Linked DNA regions of Homo sapiens. Changing the gene in region 1 together with any one later gene gives a genetic interaction. Each region holds a gene or a part of one and is shown on either strand. Other genes may lie near its edges. The genes, in order: RB1, PIN1, FLT3LG, EBNA1BP2, P4HA1, ANKRD52 and ATP5PF.

Region 1 (3,500 bases):
AGATACTAACTTTGAAAATAAGATATTTAAAAGGATGCTTTTTTTCTATGTATTTTTTTAAAGTGTAATTAAAACTAAATAACTAAAACAAAATTTTCTAGTTATAAATGAATCTCTTTTTGGATTTTATGTCAACTTACATATTCCTATTTTAACTCTTAAATAGTTGCATCTTTTCCCCTCAGTACATGAAAATAGACAAGAGGCTCATAACCAAAATCAGGCCTTGAAGACATATGGAAACATTTTGGAACCCACAAATATGCACTTAAAAAGGAGCTGAAAGCTGTAAAAACATGTATATTTTCTTAGAGAAGTGTTCAGTTGCTATAGTTAGTACATTTCCCAGTGACACACTTAGCTATGATGGCGAGCTTCCTCTGCCAGGCCAAAGTTCAGGACCTTTGTGCATCTACAAAATTGTGACAAAGCAGGCAGAATTTTAACCCCTGAGGCTAAGGCATTTCTTTAGGATGCTCTTCAGCTTTTCTTAAAGAATTACATTTAGAAAAGATCATCATACAATGCTGGATTGCCCAGAATGGAAGGGCATTCCATTTTTCCAAATGTGCTTCTTTATAAAGAACTCATGCCTACCTCTAAAATCAAGTTAAGAATTTTTAAGAAATTTAATAAGTATCCCGGCTTTGTCTATATTGTAATTCATAATATGCTTTTAACATGGCCATGCCCCGGGTAGGCATGATGGCTTATGTCTGTAATACCAGCACTATGGGAGGGCAAGGTGAGAGGATTGCTTGAGGCCAGGAGTTCAAGACCAGCCTGGGCAACATAGCAAGACCCCATCTTTACAAAAAAATCCAAAAATTAGCCAGGCCTGGTGGCATGTGCCTGTAGTCTTGGCTACTGGAGAGGCTGAGGTGAGAGAATTGCTTGAGCCCAGAAGGTCAAAGCTGTAGTGAGCCATGATCATGCCACTGCACTCCAGCTTGGGCAACAGAGCAAGACCTTGTCTCAAAAAAAAAAAATCCATGCCCAGTTTAAATGAGCTATGATTTGATGTATTTGCAGTACCTGCAAGGCATCTGCAAACATAAGGGAACCTATAGCTTTGTAAAGAATACCACCACTCACTCTGGCAGATTCAGTCTGGGCCAGCCGAGTATTCTAGTCTGCTGAAGTATATGCCAAGCATCAACCACCTCATCTCTAGAATAGTGGCCTACAAAATGGGGCATACCTGAAGTATGCAAAGTCATCTTTTGGGGTACATAAAGTAGAAGTTCTATTTATCTCATTTTAATGTTTGCTTGGGGTATGTGTTTTATAATTTGTACATACATACGTATTTTTGTGGTACAGGCTTGGAAAAAAATTTACTCACAGGGATATATGATTTTTAAAGATTTGGAGACCACTGTTTTTTTGGGGGGTGGGGAGGGAATTTTTTTTTTAATTGATATATCATAGTTATACATATTTTAGGGGTACATGTGATGTTTTGATACGTGTACACAATGTGTAATGATCAAATCAGGGTTATTGGGATATATATCACCTCAAACATTTTTCTTTGCATTGGGAACATTACAATTCTAGCTATTTTGAAATATGCAGTAAATTAACTGTAACTCCCTACGGTACTGTCAAATACTAGAATGAAGACCACTGCTTTTGCAAGGTCCTGAGCGCCATCAGTTTGACATGAGCATAATATATATGGCAGCCACTTGCCAACTTACCCAGTACCATCAATGCTGTTAACAGTTCTTCATCCTTTTTCCAGCTTCTACTCGAACACGAATGCAAAAGCAGAAAATGAATGATAGCATGGATACCTCAAACAAGGAAGAGAAATGAGGATCTCAGGACCTTGGTGGACACTGTGTACACCTCTGGATTCATTGTCTCTCACAGATGTGACTGTATAACTTTCCCAGGTTCTGTTTATGGCCACATTTAATATCTTCAGCTCTTTTTGTGGATATAAAATGTGCAGATGCAATTGTTTGGGTGATTCCTAAGCCACTTGAAATGTTAGTCATTGTTATTTATACAAGATTGAAAATCTTGTGTAAATCCTGCCATTTAAAAAGTTGTAGCAGATTGTTTCCTCTTCCAAAGTAAAATTGCTGTGCTTTATGGATAGTAAGAATGGCCCTAGAGTGGGAGTCCTGATAACCCAGGCCTGTCTGACTACTTTGCCTTCTTTTGTAGCATATAGGTGATGTTTGCTCTTGTTTTTATTAATTTATATGTATATTTTTTTAATTTAACATGAACACCCTTAGAAAATGTGTCCTATCTATCTTCCAAATGCAATTTGATTGACTGCCCATTCACCAAAATTATCCTGAACTCTTCTGCAAAAATGGATATTATTAGAAATTAGAAAAAAATTACTAATTTTACACATTAGATTTTATTTTACTATTGGAATCTGATATACTGTGTGCTTGTTTTATAAAATTTTGCTTTTAATTAAATAAAAGCTGGAAGCAAAGTATAACCATATGATACTATCATACTACTGAAACAGATTTCATACCTCAGAATGTAAAAGAACTTACTGATTATTTTCTTCATCCAACTTATGTTTTTAAATGAGGATTATTGATAGTACTCTTGGTTTTTATACCATTCAGATCACTGAATTTATAAAGTACCCATCTAGTACTTGAAAAAGTAAAGTGTTCTGCCAGATCTTAGGTATAGAGGACCCTAACACAGTATATCCCAAGTGCACTTTCTAATGTTTCTGGGTCCTGAAGAATTAAGATACAAATTAATTTTACTCCATAAACAGACTGTTAATTATAGGAGCCTTAATTTTTTTTTCATAGAGATTTGTCTAATTGCATCTCAAAATTATTCTGCCCTCCTTAATTTGGGAAGGTTTGTGTTTTCTCTGGAATGGTACATGTCTTCCATGTATCTTTTGAACTGGCAATTGTCTATTTATCTTTTATTTTTTTAAGTCAGTATGGTCTAACACTGGCATGTTCAAAGCCACATTATTTCTAGTCCAAAATTACAAGTAATCAAGGGTCATTATGGGTTAGGCATTAATGTTTCTATCTGATTTTGTGCAAAAGCTTCAAATTAAAACAGCTGCATTAGAAAAAGAGGCGCTTCTCCCCTCCCCTACACCTAAAGGTGTATTTAAACTATCTTGTGTGATTAACTTATTTAGAGATGCTGTAACTTAAAATAGGGGATATTTAAGGTAGCTTCAGCTAGCTTTTAGGAAAATCACTTTGTCTAACTCAGAATTATTTTTAAAAAGAAATCTGGTCTTGTTAGAAAACAAAATTTTATTTTGTGCTCATTTAAGTTTCAAACTTACTATTTTGACAGTTATTTTGATAACAATGACACTAGAAAACTTGACTCCATTTCATCATTGTTTCTGCATGAATATCATACAAATCAGTTAGTTTTTAGGTCAAGGGCTTACTATTTCTGGGTCTTTTGCTACTAAGTTCACATTAGAATTAGTGCCAGAATTTTAGGAACTTCAGAGATCGTGTATTGAGATT
Region 2 (3,500 bases), on another chromosome or scaffold:
TATAAGAGTGAGCAGGAGGGTGCAGGCATTTGGGGATGGAGCGGCATGAAGTGGGCTCCTGGGGGTCAGCAGAGCAGCCAGGCGCAGGACAGAGCTGCTCCAAGCAATCCTGATGAGAGCTGGCAGAAGGCTGAGGTCGGTGGGGATAGTGAGGAGGGCATGGGTCTGGGTGTGGTGGGCGAGGGTGTCTCGCCCATCTCTGGGTTGGACAGGTGCACCTGGTAAGTAGCCAGGCCCTGAGGCGTCACCGTAGGTACCTGCAGATTCTGGAATGTCAGCAGGAGCCTTGCCTGCCCACCTGGTGGAAGCTGTGGGAGGAATTGGAGCAAGAGGCGGTGTGACTTGAACTTGGGGGCTGGAAGTGGAAGAAGAAGTGAGAGGGAGCAGACCCGAGAGAGATTCAGGAGGCAGGATAGAGAGGACTGGGTGATGGATTAGGTGGGCAAGGGTGGGATGTCTGGGGGAGGGTCAGGGCAGAACAGCGTGGCCCACCCTGGGCTCGTACAGGGCTGGATTTCAGTGCCAGCTGTGTGGTCTTCATTTCCTGAGCCTCAGTTGCCTCATCTGTAGAATGGGGAGAGGGTGGCTATGAGGATCCAGGAGCTATGGGCTCAGTGGCTGGCGTGCTCTGCACGGTGGAGCCTCAGCCCCAGTCATTGGGGTGTGGACGATGGGGGAGCTGAGGTCAAGTCAAGGCCTCTGCTCACGGGCAGCCCCTGCTGCCACCCCACAGCCCGTAGAAAGAGTTCCGGATAGGACCACAGGAGGCCTGGTGGGCTCAGCACACAGATGATGACCTTGGCACACGACCTCCCTCTCCTGGTATCCTCCTGCCTGAGACGGTGCTGGGGCAGATCTCCTCAGAGGTCGATAGGAGGATGCAGTGAGGTGGCCCCGGCCGAGGTACACTCGGTAACAGATCATCATGTGCAGTGTCGGCGCAGGCATTGGGCACCTGGGCCTCATTTTCTCTTCCATGAAGTGGATGTTCTCCCCTCGAGGGTTCATGCCGGGTGATCAGGAGACCATGATTTGGGCAGCTCACTCCCCAGCTGGCAGCCGGGCTAAATCTCATCAGTGCCCATTTAGATCTGGTGCTCCGCCCTTGCCCCGAAGGGACAGGCTGCCTGCAGAGAGAGCCGGGACCTCCACATTTTCTGCTGAGGCTCCTTTTCCCAGCATTGGCTCCTCTGCAGCTGCTGGGCCACAGCCAGAGGCTGTCAGAGATCCAAGGGAGTCATTGCCAGTGTCCTTGTCTAAGGAGGATGGGCCATGGAGAAGCCCTCCCTGCCCGCTCTCCACCCAGATCTGTTGACAGCCACCCCTCACATGCCCAGGGCCTGGAGGGTCCCAGCAAGGCTGAGACTATGAGCAGCTGTCCTACTCACATACCCATCCCAGCATCCAGGTCAGCCCCTTTGTCCTGGGGTCCTCAAGGTCACTGGCGCCCTTCCAGCCTGCTGGCCTTGGGCCAGCCTCTAGCCCCTCCTTCTGGATCTTGGTCTTCTCAGATCTGACCCTGTCACCTCTTTCCCCGACCAGGCCCCTTCCCCTCTGGTGCCTGGGCAGCCTGGGGGAAGTATGCTGGAAGCAGCGTAATGATCTGGCAAGGCAGAGGAGACAGCACGTCTTGAAACATTTTTGGGGTCAAGGACTACCCCATTTGTTCCCTCACTCCCACCTAGGTCACTGATGTGCATTAGCTTGGACTGTTGTAACAAAATATCACAGACAGTGTGGCTTAAACAACAGTCATCACTTTCCACAGTTCTGGAGGCCAGAAGTCCACAATCCAGGTTCCCTCAGATTCTGTTCCTGGCGAGAACCCACTTCCTGGCTTGTAGACGGCTGCCCTCTCACTGTGCACTCACATGGCATTCCCCAGGCGCATGTGCACGGAGTGAAGGAGCACGAGCTCTCTGGTGTCTCTTATAAGGACACTAATCCTGGCCAGGCGCAGTGGCTCATGCCTGTAATCCCAGCACTTTGGGAGACTGAGGTGGGTGGATCACCTGAGGTCAGGAATTCAAGACCAGCCTGGCCAACATGGTAAAACTCCATCTCTACTAAAAATACTAAAAAAAAAGCCAGATGTAGTGGCGCACACCTGTGATCCCAGCTACTCAGGAGGCTGAGGCAGGAGGATCGCTGGAACCTGGGAGGCAGAGGTCACAGTGAGCCGAGATTGTACCACTGCACTCCAGCCTGGGTGACAGAGCCAGATTCTGCCTCAAAAAAAAAAGGGGCGCTAATCCTGTTGGATCAGGGCCCCACCCTTATGACCTCATTTAACCCTAGTTACTTCCCCAAAGTCCCCATCTCCAGATGCAGCCACACTGGAGGTTAGGGCTTTAACACATGAATTTGGGGTGACACAAACATTGAGTCCATAACGGATGGGCAGCTTGGATCTGTCAGGGGCCTGCTCTGCAACAGCCACTGCTTAAGCGGTCACTGATTCACTCCTTGGAACAGGCTCCAACGTGGGAGCAGCGGTTACCCCATTTTACAGGCCAGTTGAGTGAGGCTCCAAGAGGTAAAGTCACCTGCCAGACTCTCATTGTTCAGGAGCAGCAGAGGTAGGATCTGGACCTGATGGAGTCTGGAGTCAGCACCCATAACATGTCCTCCTGGACCTTGGGGATACACTGTGAGCAGGCTGGCTGGGGTCTGCCAGCACAGATAGGTGCCATTCTGTTTTGCATACTATTTCAGGGGGTCCTGAACACCTTGAAGCAGGTGGAGGCCCCTGCTCCAGACTGGGAGCTCCTGGAGAGGCCACCCTGTGTCTGTGTGGTTCTAAGCTGGAGCCACATCGAATCAGGATGGGGCTCCAGCACCCGACAGTCCCCATCAAATTTCACAGGTTTTGGCGCCGTCGGGCAAGGCTGACACATTGTCTTGGAGGAGGCCCAGGAAGTCTGGCCTTAGGGTCGCAGCCTGAGTTTCAGGCAGATAGGGCATGAGATTCCAGCATTTCTGCTTCGAGCCCCGTGGTAGATCCCTGTCTCCCTCCTTCCCCATGGCCTATTTCTGTCTCATTTATTCATTAACTTCTTGAACATTCGTGAACACCTGTTTTGTGCACAGTGCTGGGTTCTGAGGGTGCAGCAATGAAGAAGGCCAACCCAGCAGCCTCCATTCCTGCACTGTGAGGCGGGCAAGCAACACACCAATGGGACGGTAGTAAATGCAGCACCCAGGGGGAGGCACCTAACACAGTGGGGGATTAGGGGAGGCTTCTTGGGGAGACCAGAGGATAGCTGATGAGTTTCAGGCAGGACAAGAGGCTTAAACCAAGGTCTGCGAGGTGGGAGTCGGAGGATGTCATTGTCGCGGGGTCAGGTACAGGCTGAGCTAACAAGACACACAGGACCAAACCCCTCAAGGTCAGCCTCACAGAGCAGGAACTCAGGAAGAAAGCGTTTTTGTTTGTTTGTTTGTTTGTTTGTTTGTTTGTTTGAAATGGAGTTTCGCTCTTGTTGCCCACGCTGGAGTGC
Region 3 (3,500 bases), on another chromosome or scaffold:
CAGGGGCAGCTCTAGGTGCAGAAAGACCCCTCTGGGGCCAGGCGCGGTGGCTCACGCCTGTAATCCCAGCACTTTGGGAGGCCGAGGCGGGTGGATCACTTGAGGTCAGGAGTTCAAGACCAGCCTGGCCAACATGGCAAACCCCAGTCTCTACTAAAAATACAAAAATTAACTGGGCATAGTGGTGTGTGCCTGTAATCCCAGCTACTCAGGAGGCTGAGGAAGGAGAATTGCTTGAACCCAGGAGGCGGAGGTTGCAGTGAGCCGAGATTGCGCCACTGGACTCCAGCCTGAGTGACAGAGCTAGACTCCGTCTCAAAAAAAAAAAAAAAAAAGAAAAGGAAAGACCCCTCTGGGGCCACGGAGACAGACTGGAGACCAAGCCGGAGGCTGTGGGAAGGCCCAGGGTGAGGACCATGACTGAGCCAGGGCTGGGACCATGGGATGGAGTGGAGTGGATGGGCAGAGAGTCAGGGGTCAGAGATCAGGAGGGACCGGCCTGGGGCCTGACAGGCTTGAGTTGGCACAGATAGCCCTGGTCCAGTGATGGGGTGGACAGGGGGGAACCTGGGGGAGGAGTCAGATTAGGGAAAGACATGGAGCTCACTGGGGACCTGAAGGAGCAAGGGGCCCTGGGGAGATCTGTGGATGTGGGAGTTTGCAAGCCTCCTGGGACAGGAAGGAAATGGCATTCCAGAAAGAGGGAACTGCCTTTGGAAGCCCTTTGGTATGAGAAAGCTCAGGGTGTTCCAGTAACTTGGGCCAGCGTGGGGCAGCAAGGAGCCATGGGAGGTGTGAGAGGGAGGAAAGGAGCTGGGAACAGGTGTGGAGGGTGCAGGCAGGTAGGCAGGTGGGCCAGGAGGGAAGAAGGAGGGGAGGCCCCAGCGGGTCCCCTAACATTTCAAATCTAACATTTTGTAGTAATTGCTCGCACATATAGTGCCTTGGTAATGCAGGCCTCATGTGGGGCTGGCTTGCTTGCTTTATTTTTTTTTGAGATGGACTCTCACTCTGTCACCCAGGCTGGAGTGCAGTGGCGGGATCTTGGCTCACTGCAACCTCCACCTCCCAGGTTCAAGCAATTCTCCTGCCTCAGCCTCCCAAGTAGCTGGGATTACAGGCGCCCGCCACCATGCCTGGCTAATTTTTTGTATTTTTAGTAGAGATGGGGTTTCGCCATGTTGGCCAGGCTGGTCTCAAACTCCTGATCTCAGCTGATCCGCCCGCCTCAGCCTCCCAAAGTGCTGGGATGACAGGTGTGAGCCACTGTTCCTGGCCCATGCTGGGCTTTCCACAAATGAACTCACTTCCTTGAGAAGTTCGTGCCATTATGATCCCAAGGCATAGAGAGGTAAATAATTTGCCAAAAGTCACACAGCTCAAGGGTGACAACCAAGATTTGACTTCAGGTTGTCTTTTTTTTTTTTTTGAGATGGAGTCTTGCTCTGTCGCCCAGGCTGTAGTGCAGTGGCATGATCTCGGCTCACTGCAGCCCCCGCCTCCCAGGTTCAAGTGATTCTCCTGCCTCAGCCTCTGGAGTAGCTGGGATTACAGGTACCCACCACCACACTCGGCTAATTTTTGTATTTGTAGTAGAGACGGGGTTTCACCATGTTGGCCAGGCTGGTCTCGAACTCCTGACCTTAGCTGATCCGCCCGCCTCAGCCTCCCAAAGTGCTGGGATTACAGGCATGAGCCACCACGCCCGGCCTCGAGTTTGTCTTGATCCAGCATCTGTGCCCTTCACTCTGCTGCCTCAGTTTCCTGATCTGTACAAAAGGCTCTAATAATAGTCCTTCCACCATAGGGTTGTTATGGGGTGAAGTGAAGTGACACAGGCAAGGCTCTTAGAGCAACGCAGTGGAAACGGCATGTGAGCCACCTGTGCGATTTTCACTTTCCTGGTAGCCACATTTTTTTTTTTTTTTTCCTGAGATGGAGTCTCACTCTGTCGCCAGGTTGAAGTGCAGTGGTGTGATCTCAGCTCACTGCAACCTCCACCTCCCGGGTTCAAGCGATTCTCCTGCTTCAGTCTACCGAGTAGCTGGGATTACAGGCACGCGCCATCACGCCCGGCTAATTTTTTGTGTTTTTAGTAGAGACAAGGTTTCACCATGTTGGTCAGGCTGGTCTCGAACTCCTGACCTCATGATCCACCCGCCTCAGCCTCCCAAAGTGCTGGGATTACAGGCGTGAGCCACCGCGCCCGGGGTCACAGTTTTTAAAAAAGGAAAAAGAAGCAGGTAACTTTATTTTATGCAGTATATCCAAAATGTTGTTATTTCAACATGTAATCAGTATTTCTCAATGATTAATGAGACATTAATCAGTTGGAATCATTCATCATTTTGGGATATTTTACATTCTTTTGTCATACTAAGCCTTCAGCATCCAACGTATAGTTTATTTATTTATTTATTTTTCCTTTTGAGATGGATTCTCGCTCTGTCACCCAGGCTGGAGTGCAGTGGCGCGATCTCAGCTCACTGCAACCTCGGACTCCCTGGTTCAGGCGATTCTCCTGCCTCAGCCTCCCGAGTACCTGGGATTACGCCACCACACCCAGCTAATTTTTGTACTTTTAGTAGAGACCGGGTTTCACCATGTTGGCCAGGATGATCTCCATCCCCTGACCTCGTGATCCGCCCGCCTCAGCCTCCCAAAGTGCTGGATTACAAGTGTAAGCCACCGCGCCCAGCCCAGACAATAAATTTTTATCAGAAATGCTTCATCTATATTTAAATTTCATGAAATTTACAGTTGCCAAAAGTAGACTCACATAGTCAAGTTGTTCAAAACATACATTAAACCAGCCTGGGCCACATGGTGAAACCCCATCTCTACAAAAAATTTTAAAAAGTAGCTGGGTGTGGTGGCACATGCCTGCAGTCCCAGCTACTTAGGAGGCAAAGTAGGAGGATTGCTTGAGCCCAGGAGGTCGAGGCTGCAGTGAGCCCTGATTGTGCCACTGCACTCCAGCCTGGGTGAGAGAGCAAGACCCTGTCTCAAAAACAAAAAAACCACACAGAAGAGTTTAGAATCCCAGTTGCTATCTCTGGGAATCATCATGATTGCTAAGACCGGTATCTATCCAACAACAACAAAAATAATTAGTGCACTCCAGCCTGGGCAATAGAGGGAGACTCTGTCTCAAAAAAAAAAAAAAAAAAAAAAAAAAGATCAAAGACCAGTATCTAAATTGCTCTGTCGCCCAGGGTGGAGTGCAGTGGCACGATCTCGGCTCACTGCAACCTCCGCCTCCCGGGTTCAAGTGATTCTCCTGCCTCAGCCTCCCCAGTAGCTTGGACTACAGGCGCGTGCCACCACACCCAGCTAATTTTTGTATTTTTAGTAGAGGTAGGGTTTCACTATGTTTGCCAGGATTGTCTCGATCTCTTGACCTCGTGATCTGCCCGCCTCAGCCTCCCAAAGTGCTGGGATTATAGGCGTGAGCCACCACGCCCAGCCTATCTTTTTTTTTTTTTTTAAGAAAAGGTAAT
Region 4 (2,804 bases), on another chromosome or scaffold:
ACAGGTGCCTGCCATCACACCCAGCTAATTTTTGTATTTGTAGTAGAGACAGGGTTTCACCATGTTGGCCAGGCTGGTTGTGAACTCCTGGCCTCAAGTGATTCACTCACCTCAGCCTCCCAAAGTGCTGGGATTATAGGTGTGAACCACTGCACCCATCCTAAGAAGGTACTTTTAAGTATGTGGCACCCTTTAAGTGAATGCTGAGTAAAGTTGATTCCCCATCACACAGTGCGATGGTTGAGAGTTCAGACCTAGGGTTCAGATCCCGACTCTACCACTCAGTAGGAGGGCAGTTTTGAACGAGTTACCATGCCTTTCTAAATGCTAATTGCCTCATCTGCTAAGTTGAGGAAATAGTGTCTGCCTCATAGTATGAAGACTGAAAGAGAGAATGTGGGCTCTCATTGTTTTTTCTAGTCTGCTTTTTTGCATACCTGGATACCAGGCCTAGGGGAAATGATAATTTCCATGTAAGATAGTAAGTGCTATGATAGAGGCATTTGGGGATTAGTACTGAGTCAGCTTTTATAAATACCTGACAGGGTCTGGGGTGGATTTCTGGAGGAGCGTTCGACTTGAGCATTGCTTGAAGCATGAGTAGGAATTAACCACGAGAATAGAAGAGAAGCTGGGTTTGGGAAGAAGTAAGAGCTTGAACGAGCAAAGCCATCGAGATGTGAAACCTCAGGGTTTTGTGAGGAACAGTAAGCCCTTGGTGTCACTGGGAATACAGTGCAAAGCAAGGAGGGGTGCAATGTGTTTGGGGGGACCTGGGCTGTGGGTTTGCCTTGTTGAGGAGCTTGGGCTTTGTCAGAAGGCAGTGGAGAGACTAGGTTGTAGGTTGTACTAACAGTAATGAGCAGGTTATATTCATGTTTTTAAAAAGATCACAGTGGATTTTGTATAAGTGACAGACTTGAGGGAAGCTGGGAAATTGACAAGGGTACTATTGCAAAAGTCGAGATAAGGATTGAAGAAACATTTAAGAGGTGAAATGAGCAGGACTCAGTAATTGAATTGGGTATAAAGAGTGAGAGAAGAACCAAGGCTGACTCCCACATGTTTAGCCTGTGTGTCTGGGTTGGTGGGAGCAGCGCCAGCCTCAAGTGAGGGCATATGTACAGGAAGCAGAGCCAGTCCAGGAGATGATGTGAATTTGGAGATGCTGAATTCAAGATTCCTATTGGATGACCAGTTTTACATTTGAATGTTATTCCATTTGAATGTTATTTGAATGCCTATAATTACATTTGAATGTTTACATTTGAACGTATTCATTACATTACATTTGAATGTTACAAATGTAACATATTACATTTGGATGTTAACTGCATGTATTTACCCTTGAGAGGAATAGACACAACTGAGGGTGATTTAATAAGATTTGGTTAAAATAGAAAGCTTTCTAAAGACAGCAGGAAGCCATGTAATATATGTAGAGCCTTCCCTGCTTCTTGCTTTATTTTCCTGCCCTGGTGGTCAAAACTGTAAATAGGTGAGCTAGATGAGTTTGTCTAGAGAGGCTGTAGCATAGGATTGTGGGGCCAAGGATGAGATTCTGGGTTACAGACGTGCCTAAGGGGCTTTGCTTATAGAAAGGAAACTGAGAGCATTGCTGGGCCATCAGGTTCATCAGGCTTTACAGTGCTGTAGTGATGTCTAGGACCATTCTTTTCCAGGCCCAGTGCTAAACGACGGTATAAAAACCAGAAGTTTGGTTTTGGTGGAAAGAAGAAAGGCTCAAAGTGGAACACTCGGGAGAGCTATGATGATGTATCTAGCTTCCGGGCCAAGACAGCTCATGGCAGAGGCCTCAAGAGGCCTGGCAAGAAAGGGTCAAATGTAAGTGAGCCCAGGTGCCCGGGTGAGGAGCAGGCTCAGCCTCCCCTCCCACTCCCAACCCTGCCCTCTCCCTTCAGTTCTGTTCGTCCTCACCCTGGGGCAGAAGGCAAGCTGCTATGTGACCAGATGTGGTATGTCTTTTTCTGTAGAAGAGACCTGGAAAACGAACAAGAGAGAAGATGAAGAACAGAACACACTAAATAGCATCTTTGAATACAAAGAACCAAGAAAAAGGAATGAAGACTCGCAATTTCACGACACACTTTGATCCCTTCTGTTGGTGTCATGTTGTAAACATTTCTTTCAATAAACTAAAGAAAAATTATTAAAGGAACACATACCTTTGGTTAAATAGTCTAGACTAAAAGATTGAGAAGTTACTTTCCATTGCTATCTATTGATAATTTAGACATTGAGTTCAAATTGCCTTCATTTTATGATAAATAATGATTTAACTGACACCTTCTCATTTCCTTTGTCTCATCCTTCTAAATAGTTATATTACGATCAATCCCTGTAAAGCTCAATGCCCATATTTTACAGGTGTGAGCCACCGTGATTTTCTTTGTGGTACAGCTTTTGGTTTTTCCTCCAGTTAACCTTCACCTTACATTCTTCTGCTTGCCTAATTTTCCTTCTATATTCTTAGTTCTTTCCAGATGCTTTGTCATTTTACCCACTTTATAATTTTTCTCCTACAACCTAGTTATGCCACACAACTGTCACCTTTTTTCTAGACCGTTTAAGTTGGCACCATTATTTCCAGAATCCCATGTTTTCCCATCTTAGCATATGCCTTCTTTTGCTGTGTACCATTTTTTGGTATCTTACTAAGAAAGGGAAGATGAGAGGTAAACTTTTTATCTCCTTGCATTTCTGAAATTGCCTTTAATTTGGGCTGATAGGAATTTCCTCCTTAGAATTTTAGAATTTCGCAGGCACTGTTTTTAAGTTTTATT
Region 5 (3,500 bases), on another chromosome or scaffold:
TTTTTTTTTTTTTTTTTTTTTTTTGAGATGGAGTTTCACTCTGCCACCCAGGCTGGAGTGCAGTGGTGCAATCTCGGCCCACTGCAAGCTCCACCTCCCGGGTTCACGCCATTCTCCTGCCTAAGCCTCCCGAGTAGCTGGGACTACAGCCGCCCACCATCACGCCCAGCTAATTTTTTGTATTTTTAGTAGAGACGGGGTTACACCGTGTTAACCAGGATGGTCTCGATCTCTTTACCTCGTGATCTGCCCGCCTTGGCCTCCCAAAGTGCTGGGATTACAGGTGTGATCACGCCACCGTGCCCGGCCAAAGCTTTGTGTTTCTATTCAAGAAAATTTATTTGTATAAATTGAAGCTGTCCTGTCATTAGGACAGCTTCAGTTTCTCTAGTTGAATAAGTATTGTACCTAAAGAAAAGCTTTGGCAATTCAAAAGGACTCTCATTTAGGTTACTCCAGCAGTTTTTAAACTCGGTGTGGTGAAAAACATTCTTTTTCCTGGTCTTCCTTTGGATGATCAGTATGACTGTTAGTATATTTGATTTGACATTTGCTAAAAATACATTATAGAGATTCAGACTTCTTACCTAGTTGTCATCAGTGAATGAGTTCTATATTGGGCCTTTCTCTTCCTCATGTTTAGTGTTTCATAAAAATGTGTCCATATTACTCATTTCTTTCTTAAATAGTAATATTATGTGGAATTAGTACACTCAGCCTTACTCTCTCTTTTTTTTTTTTTTTTAAGAGATAGGATCTTGCTCTGTTGCCCAGGATGGAGTGCAGTGGTGTGACCATAGCTCACTGCAGCCTTGAACTCCTGGGCTCAAGCAATCCTTCTGCCTCAGCCTCCGGGTGTAGCTCGGGGTACAGATGCATGCCACCATGTCTAGCTAATTTTTTAATTTTTTGTAGAGATGGGATCTTGCTCTGTTGACCAGGCTAGTCTCGAACTCCTGGCCTCAAGTGATTCTCCCATCTGCCCCACAAAGTGTTGGGATTATAGGTGTGAGCCACCATGCCTGGTCATCCTTACTCTCTTGTTGGACACTTGAGCTGTTTCTCCATTATAAGTAGTGCAAAGAGAGGACTGTAATTTAGTGGTTTATTTTATCAACCTGTATAATTACAGTAAACTTTAACCAATTTTTTAATTTTTAAATTTATATTTAAATTTTTTTTTTTTTAGAGACAGGGCCTTACTATGTTGCCCAGGCATGGTGGCTCACACCTGTAATCACAGCACTTTGGAAGGCCGAGGCAGGAGGATCACTTGAGGCCAGGAGTTCAAGACCAGCCTGGTCAGCATAGTGAGACCCCATCTCTCTACAAAAAAAATTTTTTTTTAATTAAGGGGGCATGAGGTTGCATGCATCTGTAGTCTAACTACTTGGGAGGCTGAGGTGGGAGGGTCGCTTGAGCCCAAGAGTTGGAAGCTGCAGTGAGCTATGATAGCACCATTGCACTCTAGCCTGGGTGAGAGTGCAAGACCCTGTCTCTAAAAAAAAAAAAAAAAAAAAGAAAAGAAAAAAAAATTATTTACAATATGGCCAGTAGACTGTAGGAAAATCAAGAATGATGAGAAATGTTTCATAGGAGAAGTAGGACATAAAAATTACATGATATAGCACCATGTGGCTAACATTTTACTAGATATTAAATCTGTAGCACTGAATGGAAATGCATATCTAGATTCACATCCTCTACAACCATGAATTCATTTTTCCCTGTTCTAGTATACATGGTCTTATTTTGTCTCTCTTTACCTCAACTTGAGAAATTTGGATCTGGCATTAGAGTAAACAGATAATTGAAGACTAGAAAGAGGTAGACTGGGTGGAAATAAAAGTGGAATTTTGACAGAATAGCCTTGGGAGGGATGAAGCTGAGTATACCTGGGCCTCAGAGCAATAATCCATTTTTTAGGAGGAAAGGGACTGCTAAAGCCAGCTTTTGAGTATTCTACTCTGACCTGAGTGGCCTTGGTCTGAATAGCTCATGTTCAGAGATAAGAGTATATTTAACTTTTTTGTACTAAGAATAGTATTTGAGTAATGTTATAGGTACATATGAGAATTTGGCCTTCATCTCTGCCGAGTCAGTTAAACACAAGTTTCTCTAGATATTTCCATTACAAGAATCAAAGCTCTTTGATTTTTGGAACTTCAGTAAAACCCAAGAATGAATAGCCGAGAACTATCATACAAGTCATAAAATTAAAAGGCATTGAACAGTGTATGAAGCATCAGATATCCTGTTACATGTGTCTGCAACAATAAATTAAATATTGATTAACTGATTTTAAGTAGGCTCAAGACTTCTCTTACAGTTCTAATCTTATATTAACTAGATTTGCATATCTAATTTCTCCAAAAATATGATCAAGAAATGTTTATTTTAGTCTAGGCGTGGTGGCTCACATCTGTAATCCCAGTGCTTTGGGAGGCTGAGGTGGGAAGATCTCTGGAGCCCAGGAGTTCAAGGCTGCTGTGAGCTCTGATTGTTCCACTCCACTCCAGCCTGGGTGACAGAGCCAGACCCTGTCTCAAAAAAACAAAAAAAGTTGGTATTTCTAAAACCTACTGGTTGAATTTAGGACCTCAAAATGTTACTTGTGTGTGTGACCTTTGTTCTTGCCCTATGGTTCTGACAACCTTCCTCCTTTTTATTTATTTATTTATTTATTTATTTATTTTTTTGGTAAACTCAGGCAACATATTCATAGTCAAAGGTTACATGAAGACATTCTCAAATTTACATGATTTCAAAATTTAGTTACTTCTTTTTTTTTTTTTTTTTTTTTTTTGAGATGGACTCTCACTCTGTCACCCAGGCTGGAGTGCAGTGGCGCAATCTCGGTTCACGGCAACCTCTGCCTCCTGGGTTCAAGCAATTCTCTGCCTCAGCCTCCCGAGTAGCTGGGATTACAGGCACCCGCCACCACGCCCGACTACTTTTTTGTATTTTTAGTAGAGACAGGGTGTCACCATCTTGGCCGGGCGGGTCTCGAACTCCTGACCGGGGGTGATCCATCAGCCTCGGCCTCCCAAAGTGCTGGGATTACAGGCATGAGCCACCGCACCTGGCCTGCAGTTACTTCCTTTAACCTCAAAGATATTTTGAAAATAGACCTCAATTTACTATGCCTGAATTTAAAAAACCTTAATATTGTATTTGAAAATAGTGAATAGTGACCATTGCCACCAAGTAGAGTGATAGTAATAAGTAAAACACTAATCTTTGATATAAGGGTGATTACTAATAAATTGAATAAACTGATATATTTTAACGACTTTATTGAGCAAAATTGACAGGACAAATTGCATATATTTACAGTGTACAATTTGATAAATTTGACAAAAATATCTACTTAAAAAAATATCAGTACAATCAAGATAAGGAACATATCCATCACCTTCAAGAGTATCCTCAAGGTCAGGCACAGTGGCTTAGGCCTGTAATCCCAACCCTTTGGGTGGCCGAGGCAGGAGGACTGCTTG
Region 6 (3,500 bases), on another chromosome or scaffold:
AGGGGATAAGCACAGTGCAGGGTAGGAAGCCTTAAGGGGCCCAAGGAGCTTGTCAAGGACTAAGACCTTGAGCTTCCCAGGGACCCCAAGAGCAGAGAAGGGGAAGGGAGGAGCAGGGAAGGTCCCGAGCTGTGTGCACTGGTTGCCTGCACCTTGCCAGGCCTACAACGGTCACTGTGAAGCCTTGAAGACGCTGGCGGAGACGCTGGTGAATCTGGACGTAAGGGACCACAAGGGCCGGACCGCACTCTTCCTGGCCACGGAGCGCGGCTCTACTGAGTGTGTGGAGGTGCTTACAGCCCACGGCGCCTCTGCCCTCATCAAGGAGCGCAAGCGCAAGTGGACACCCCTGCACGCTGCTGGTTAGTGCCCACTTTAGGCTGCTGCCCTACCCTTGCCATGCCAGATCCCTCCTGGATGGGAATGGGGCTGGAAAGTGGAGTAGGGTGAGGAGAATGGAGACTTCAAGCCCTGATTCATAGCTTCCTATCCTCAGAGATTTCTCCCTGGCCCAGGTCTTTCTGTAACATTGACCCCAAGTCCTTTAGGCTTGACCTTGCCTCCCTTCTTCCTCCTGGCCCTGCCCTGACACGGGGTCCCTTTCCCCTAGCTGCCTCTGGCCACACTGACTCCCTGCACTTGCTGATCGACAGTGGGGAACGAGCTGACATCACAGATGTCATGGATGCCTATGGACAGTGAGTGTGGGCCAGGGTGGGGTGCAGGTTTTCCAGTCCTTGCGGGATCCTCACTCCTCCTCCTGCCCTTCTGTAGGACCCCACTGATGCTGGCCATCATGAATGGCCATGTGGACTGTGTACATCTGCTGCTAGAGAAAGGATCCACAGCTGATGCTGCTGACCTCCGGGGCCGCACTGCCCTCCACCGCGGGGTGAGTGAGCTTCTAGGGGGGATTGTTTGCACATGGGCCTCAGTGTGGGAGCATGGGACTCACCAGCAGTAGGGAATCCAATTGTCTAGGAGGCAAGCCAGGATTTTGTGCCGTCTTTTTTCTTTTTCTTTTTTTTTTTTTTTTTTGAGACAGGGTCTCACTCCCATTGCCCAGGTTGGAGTGCAGTGACACTATCACAGCTCACTGCAGCCTTGACTTCCTGGGCTCAGGTGATTCTCGCACCTCAGCCTCCTAAGTAGCTGAAACTGTAGGCACATGCCATCATGCCCAGCTAATTTTTGTATTTTTTGTAGATATGGGGGTCTTACCATCTTGCCCAAGCTGGTCTTGAACTCCTGGGTTCAAGTGATCCCCCCACCTTGGCCTCCCGAAGTGCTGGGATTACAGGCATGAGCCACCAGACCCACGCTGTGCCCAGGATTTTATTGAGCTTTGTGCTTGCTCCAGGATGAGTTCCTGACGTCCCCAGCTGATTTCCCTGATATCTGTGCTTTGTTTATTATTATTATTATTATTATTATTATTATTATTATTATTATTATTATTATTATTGAGATAGAGTCTCGCTCTGTCACCCAGGCTGGAGTGCAGTGGCGTGATCTCGGCTCACTGCAACCTCCGCCTCCTGGGTTCAAGCAATTCTCCTGCCTCAGCCTCCCGAGTAGCTGGGATTACAGGCGCCTGCCACCACGCCTGGCTAATTTTTGTATTTTTAGTAGAGACAGGGTTTCACCGTGTTAGCCAGGGTAGTCTCAATCTCCTGATGATGAGATCCACCCGCCTTGGCCTCCCAAAGGGTTGGGATTACAGGCGTGAGCCACTGTGCCTGGCCAATATCTGTGCTTTGTAATCACGTACAACTGAGTGCTCACCACCCAGACTCTACCTGGGATACCCTGCTGGCCCCAACCCATCGCATAATGTCGCCACAACCTAGATCCTCTTCCGTGACCACCTGTCCTAAGCTGCCTCCTCCTCCCATAAGATTTTTTGATCCCTTAGTCTCCTTCTCTCCATTTAGTCTTTCCAGTATTAACTCCAGAGCTCCAGTATTAACTCTTAGTATCCTGATTGTCTGCTGGCATAGAGAGAGTCAAGGAGGGAGATGTGGGTCCCTAATACTTAGAATTGTTGTTGTAAAGGGCCGGGCATGGTGGCTCACGTCTGTAATCCCAGCACTTTGGAAGGCCAAGGCGGGCAGATCACCTGAAGTCAGGAGTTTGAGACCAGCCTGGCCAACATGGTGAAACTTCGCCTCTACTAAAAATACAAAAATTAATTGGGCATGGTGGTGCATGCCTATAATCCCAGCTACTTGGGAGGCTGAGACAGGAGAATTGCTGGAACCTGGGAGGCAGAGGTTGCAGTGAGCCAAGATCGCACCATTGCACTCCAGCCTGGGTGACAGAGTGAGACTCCGTCTCAAAAAAAGAAAGAATTATTGTTGTAAAGACAAGGATTGAGGCCAGTGGCTCATGCCTGTAATCCCAGCACTTTGGGAGGCCGAGGCAGGCGGATCACGAGGTGAGGAGATCAAGACCATCCTGGCTAACGTGGTGAAACCCTGTCTCTACTAAAAATACAAAAAAATTGGCCGGGCATGGTGGCACCTGCCTGTAATCCCAGCTACTTGGGAGGCTGAGGCAGGAGAATCGCTTGAACCGGGGAGGCAGAGGTTGCAGTGAGCCGAGATTATGCCACTGCACTCCAGCCTGGGCGACAGAGCAAGACTCCGACTCCAAAAAAAAAAAAAAAAAAAAAAAGACAAGGATTGGAGCCCTGGAAGTGGTTCTTACTCCTGAGCCAGACTCCAGCAACAGGCCAGTGGAAAAGGAGGAGCTTTTCATCCCCCTCACACCCCCATGTTACTCACAGGCAGTGACTGGCTGTGAGGACTGCCTGGCTGCCCTGCTGGACCACGACGCATTTGTGCTGTGCCGAGACTTTAAGGGCCGCACGCCCATTCACCTGGCCTCAGCCTGTGGCCACACTGCAGTACTGCGGACCCTGCTGCAGGCTGCCCTTTCCACAGATCCCCTGGATGCCGGGGTGGATTACAGCGGATACTCGCCCATGCACTGGGCCTCCTACACTGGTACTAGACTGGGGCCTCCACAGGCACAGGAGCATGTGTTGGAGTGTGTGTAGAGGGGGACAGGTGGGTTGTTGGGGGGGACCTGGGTTGATCTGAATCTGGAAGTGGAATGGAGTGTCAAGACACAGGACAGACAGGGAACCTTGCCGTTTTTCTCCATCACTACTCTTCCTTCCTCGTGCCCAGGACATGAAGATTGTCTGGAGTTGTTACTTGAACACAGCCCGTTTTCGTACCTGGAAGGAAACCCCTTCACTCCTTTGCACTGTGCAGTGTAAGTCCCTTCTGCTGCATCAGCCCTTCTCGCGAGGGCCCATGACTTGAGCTTAGGACAGGTAGTCTACTTCCCTTGTCCTTCCTGATGACCCCTCCTCCCTCTTCCTCTAGGATTAATAACCAAGACAGCACCACAGAGATGCTACTGGGAGCTCTGGGTGCCAAGATTGTGAACAGCCGAGATGCCAAAGGACGGTGAGTGATGGAAGACTTGGG
Region 7 (3,500 bases), on another chromosome or scaffold:
CCATTCACCAAATATATTTTGTGCTTTCTAGCACAAACTAAGGCATTTTCATGCCTTAGTTCACACCATTCTTTCCTCCTAAAAGATACTCTCCTCTTACCCTCATTTATCTGTCCAACCTTCATACACTGATCTTTAAAACCTAGAGTAAACCCCTGGGTGTACAGGTCTACTGAAGGCCTCCTGTGGGTTTGAGAACTGTTTCATGCTATAAGGAAAATGATGTGAGTAAATTCTTCACGTTTTTTTCTTTAAACTGGGAAGATGATCCACAGTTGTCCATGAGATTCTCAAGAGGGATGAGTACCCAAACACTGCCTTCCAAGAAGCCTCTAAAATGCCTCTAGCTGGAAAGGAGTATTCTTTCCTATGAACTCCCCAAGCACCCAGCGTTTCCCTACCTTAGCACCTAACTCATTTTACCTTATATTGTATTTATTTGCTTAGAAGCTTTCTACTCCTATCGGACTTTAAGAATATTGTAAAAATGCCCTGTGGCCCATCACGGTTAATAGCCAAGTGCTTTACACACAGTAGACAACTATATGAAAGAAAATGGAACTATGAATTGGTGCGCCTCACTGTTCCTAAGATTTGGGTTTGGACCTGATGACAGCTAAGGTGGTCATTCCTTTCCAAAACTATGGTTCTACAATTGTTTTTCTTGGACTTACATTATGTCATTTCAGAGTCTTTTGTCCTTTAATATACATTCTCAGAGATCTGTAACTATGGAAATAGCCTTTTAAAAAAAAGAGCTGTGTTTATACATTTCCCCCAAATTACAATGTCACAGAAAGGCCACTAAATTGAGGCTAAAATATACTTTGATAATATATTTTTCCCCAATTAGTTTTATGATCTTCGGCTAATCAATGTCTAAGGGAGTTACTTTTTTCAAACTTAGCTGCTAAATGATTTCCAAGACCCTATGTATTTCTATAAATTGATGTGGTTTATAATACATGACATGACAGTAAGAATGTATTTTAAACAGCAATAAATTTAGTAGGATTTTCCCTTGTAACTCATATAAAGATACAGTTTCTGACTTAAAAAAATCAAGATCCTTATCTTCTTTTTTGAGGGCACCTAATGAACCTCTATGTCAGAGATGAGCTCAGTGAAGGTCTAATACTTTCAAATACCAAGTCATTTTTATTACCACCTTGAAACTTACATACTTTGAATATTTATATTTACACTGTAGTTATTTATTCACTTACTGTCGCTTAGATTTGTATTCTCTAATCTTGTCCACAAAGAGTTTCTGTATAGGATCAAGTTCCTTATTAAATGCCACTGCTGTAACACCAATGTTCCTCCGCAAATGGACTGAGACGGCTGACCGAATGACAGAGGAGAACCTGAAGAGCCTCTGAAGAATCATGCTGATTCTGTTACAGAAAACAAGCAGCAGAAACGTTAATATACTTATTATAAATCACCTCTAAATATATCATGAGAATCAAATTCTACTAATTGCTACAGAATTACATCATATCAGATCTCAGTCTATACCTGACCACAGTTCCCTTCTCCTCCTTATTCCCCATTGCAAGTTTTTTAGGTCTTAACCAAAAGGCTCTGGGATAATGGAACAGTTAGAAACTCAGGCCTGAAGCTTCATCAGGGTTAGAGCACAAAATGTGAGGTGAGGTATTTCTTCCCCCTTGAACTTAGTCATGGATCAGAGAAAACAGTAGAGGTAGACTGTTGCAACACTGTCCGCTCCTAACAGGAAAAGTACACTGGCCCCCAAACTAATGTACAAGGTTTCCCATACCTCAGCCGGGCATGACAACCTGAAAATGTGTACTTCACAGGCCCACAGAGGGAGAAACTGCTCTGCCTGTTACAAATGGATTCCAGCCATTTAAGAATACTGTAACAACTAAATCAAAGTCCAGAAGAACCAGCAAAGAAAAACAGCAGCCAGTCCAAATGAGCTGTGCATGACAGTGGGGAGGATCCGGCAGTCCAACTTTATCAGTGAAATAAATTGGTGAAGGAGATGGAAGTCTGAATTTTAAAAATAAGGACTTATGGCCAGGTGCAGTGGTTCACGCCTGTAATCCCAGCACTTTGGGAGGCTGAGGCTGGTGGATCACCTGAGGTTGGGAATTTGAGACCAGCCTGACCAACAAAAAGAAACCCTGTCTCTATTAAAAATACAAAAATTAGCTGGGCGTGGTGGCGCATGCCTGTAATCCCAGCTACTCAGGAGGCTGAGGCAGGAGAATTGCTTGAACCCAGGAGGCAGAGGATGCAGTGAGCCGAGATTGTGCCATTGCACTCCAGCCTGGGCAACAAGAGCAAGACTCCGTCTCACAAAAAAAAAAAAAAAAAAAAAAAAAAAAAAAAAAAAAAAGACTTAAAGACTTTCAAATCCCTAGACTTCCTTAAGCTAAAATATATTACTTTCTAACTAAAACATTTCAGTAGAGGACAATTCCTGTTGAGATTTACTTTAGTGATTTAAAGATCAAATGCAAAAAATAATCCAAATTACAACAAATAGGTACAAACAGGAATTCTAGAAGAAAAGGAATAAAGAGGGCCAGGCACGGTGGCTCATGTGTGTAATCCCAGCACTTCAGCCCGAGGCAGGTGGATCACTTGAGGTCAGAGGTTCGAGACCAGCCTGCCCAAAATGGTGAAACCCTGTCTCCACTAAACATACAAAAATAAGTCAGGCGTGCTAGCGCGTGCCTGTAATCCCAGTTATTTGGGAGGCTGAGGCAGGAGAATCACTTGAACTCAGGAGGCGGAGGCTGCAGTGAGCCCAGATCACACCACTGCACTCCAGCCTGGATGCAGGGCAAGACTCTGTCTCAAAAAGAAAAAAAAGGAAATGATTAAAAGAGACCATAAATAATTAGTAGAATACATTTTTCTCAGATTAAGGCCGAGTCTATAAACTGACAGGGCTTGCCAAACCCCATATTGGAACGGTGACAAAAGGCTCACAATGCACCACAGCCTGGTACAATTTCTCAATCTTTTTTTTTTTCAGACAGGGTCTCACTCTGTTGCCCAGAATGAACACGGCTCACTACAGCCTCAGCCTCCTGGACTCATGCAATCCTCCCACCTTAGCCTCCCAAGTAGATGGGAGCACAGTTGTGTGCCATCACACCAGGCTAATTTTTACTTTTTTTTTTTTTTTGTAGAGACGAGGTCTTGCCATATTGCCCTGGCTGGTAAAATTTCTGAATCTTCAAGTGAAAATCTGATATGCTAACATGTTTCCCATGCCCTCCCCAAATTTCCTAATAGCAATACTGTCATCATCACATTGACACCGGACTTCTACTAAGTTATAATAGGACTAGTGGAAGTATACAAACTATGTTATTGGTCTAAAGTAATATAGAAATTAGATATAAGTATTTAGAGGCCAGGCGAGGTGGCTCATGCCTGTAATCCCAGCACTTTGGGAGGCCGAGGAGGGAGGATTGTTTGAACTCAGGAGTTCAAGACCAGCCTGGGAAACATGG

The links.
Region 2: changes in RB1 (region 1) and PIN1 together harm fitness more than expected from each alone (negative genetic interaction), as found in Homo sapiens cells (one large-scale study listed by BioGRID).
Region 3: changes in RB1 (region 1) and FLT3LG together harm fitness more than expected from each alone (negative genetic interaction), as found in Homo sapiens cells (one large-scale study listed by BioGRID).
Region 4: changes in RB1 (region 1) and EBNA1BP2 together harm fitness more than expected from each alone (negative genetic interaction), as found in Homo sapiens cells (one large-scale study listed by BioGRID).
Region 5: changes in RB1 (region 1) and P4HA1 together harm fitness more than expected from each alone (negative genetic interaction), as found in Homo sapiens cells (one large-scale study listed by BioGRID).
Region 6: changes in RB1 (region 1) and ANKRD52 together harm fitness more than expected from each alone (negative genetic interaction), as found in Homo sapiens cells (one large-scale study listed by BioGRID).
Region 7: changes in RB1 (region 1) and ATP5PF together harm fitness more than expected from each alone (negative genetic interaction), as found in Homo sapiens cells (one large-scale study listed by BioGRID).

The regions. Positions count from the first base shown.
Region 1 is NC_000013.11:48,478,251-48,481,750, forward strand, and holds part of RB1 (retinoblastoma-associated protein), read left to right. Parts: intron 1-1,728; coding exon of another isoform or gene 1,729-1,747; coding exon 1,748-1,821; 3' UTR 1,822-3,500. UniProt on the Homo sapiens protein: Tumor suppressor that is a key regulator of the G1/S transition of the cell cycle. The hypophosphorylated form binds transcription regulators of the E2F family, preventing transcription of E2F-responsive genes.
Region 2 is NC_000019.10:9,841,818-9,845,317, forward strand, and holds part of PIN1 (peptidyl-prolyl cis-trans isomerase NIMA-interacting 1), read left to right. Parts: intron 1-3,500. UniProt on the Homo sapiens protein: Peptidyl-prolyl cis/trans isomerase (PPIase) that binds to and isomerizes specific phosphorylated Ser/Thr-Pro (pSer/Thr-Pro) motifs.
Region 3 is NC_000019.10:49,480,715-49,484,214, forward strand, and holds part of FLT3LG (fms-related tyrosine kinase 3 ligand isoform 1 precursor), read left to right. Parts: intron 1-1,160; exon of another isoform or gene 1,161-1,163; coding exon of another isoform or gene 1,164-1,164; exon of another isoform or gene 1,165-1,202; intron 1,203-3,500. UniProt on the Homo sapiens protein: Stimulates the proliferation of early hematopoietic cells by activating FLT3. Synergizes well with a number of other colony stimulating factors and interleukins. Required for the development of B cells, and dendritic cells (DCs).
Region 4 is NC_000001.11:43,163,684-43,166,487, reverse strand, and holds the end of EBNA1BP2 (probable rRNA-processing protein EBP2), read left to right. Parts: intron 1-1,682; coding exon 1,683-1,845; intron 1,846-1,994; coding exon 1,995-2,045; 3' UTR 2,046-2,304; downstream 2,305-2,804. UniProt on the Homo sapiens protein: Required for the processing of the 27S pre-rRNA.
Region 5 is NC_000010.11:73,090,367-73,093,866, reverse strand, and holds part of P4HA1 (prolyl 4-hydroxylase subunit alpha-1 isoform 2 precursor), read left to right. Parts: intron 1-3,500. UniProt on the Homo sapiens protein: Catalyzes the post-translational formation of 4-hydroxyproline in -Xaa-Pro-Gly- sequences in collagens and other proteins.
Region 6 is NC_000012.12:56,244,885-56,248,384, reverse strand, and holds part of ANKRD52 (serine/threonine-protein phosphatase 6 regulatory ankyrin repeat subunit C), read left to right. Parts: intron 1-160; coding exon 161-362; intron 363-610; coding exon 611-698; intron 699-774; coding exon 775-892; intron 893-2,788; coding exon 2,789-3,008; intron 3,009-3,194; coding exon 3,195-3,282; intron 3,283-3,395; coding exon 3,396-3,479; intron 3,480-3,500. UniProt on the Homo sapiens protein: Putative regulatory subunit of protein phosphatase 6 (PP6) that may be involved in the recognition of phosphoprotein substrates.
Region 7 is NC_000021.9:25,728,405-25,731,904, forward strand, and holds part of ATP5PF (ATP synthase peripheral stalk subunit F6, mitochondrial isoform a precursor), read right to left. Parts: intron 1,398-3,500; coding exon of another isoform or gene 1,391-1,397; coding exon 1,227-1,390; intron 1-1,226. UniProt on the Homo sapiens protein: Subunit F6, of the mitochondrial membrane ATP synthase complex (F(1)F(0) ATP synthase or Complex V) that produces ATP from ADP in the presence of a proton gradient across the membrane which is generated by electron transport complexes of the respiratory chain.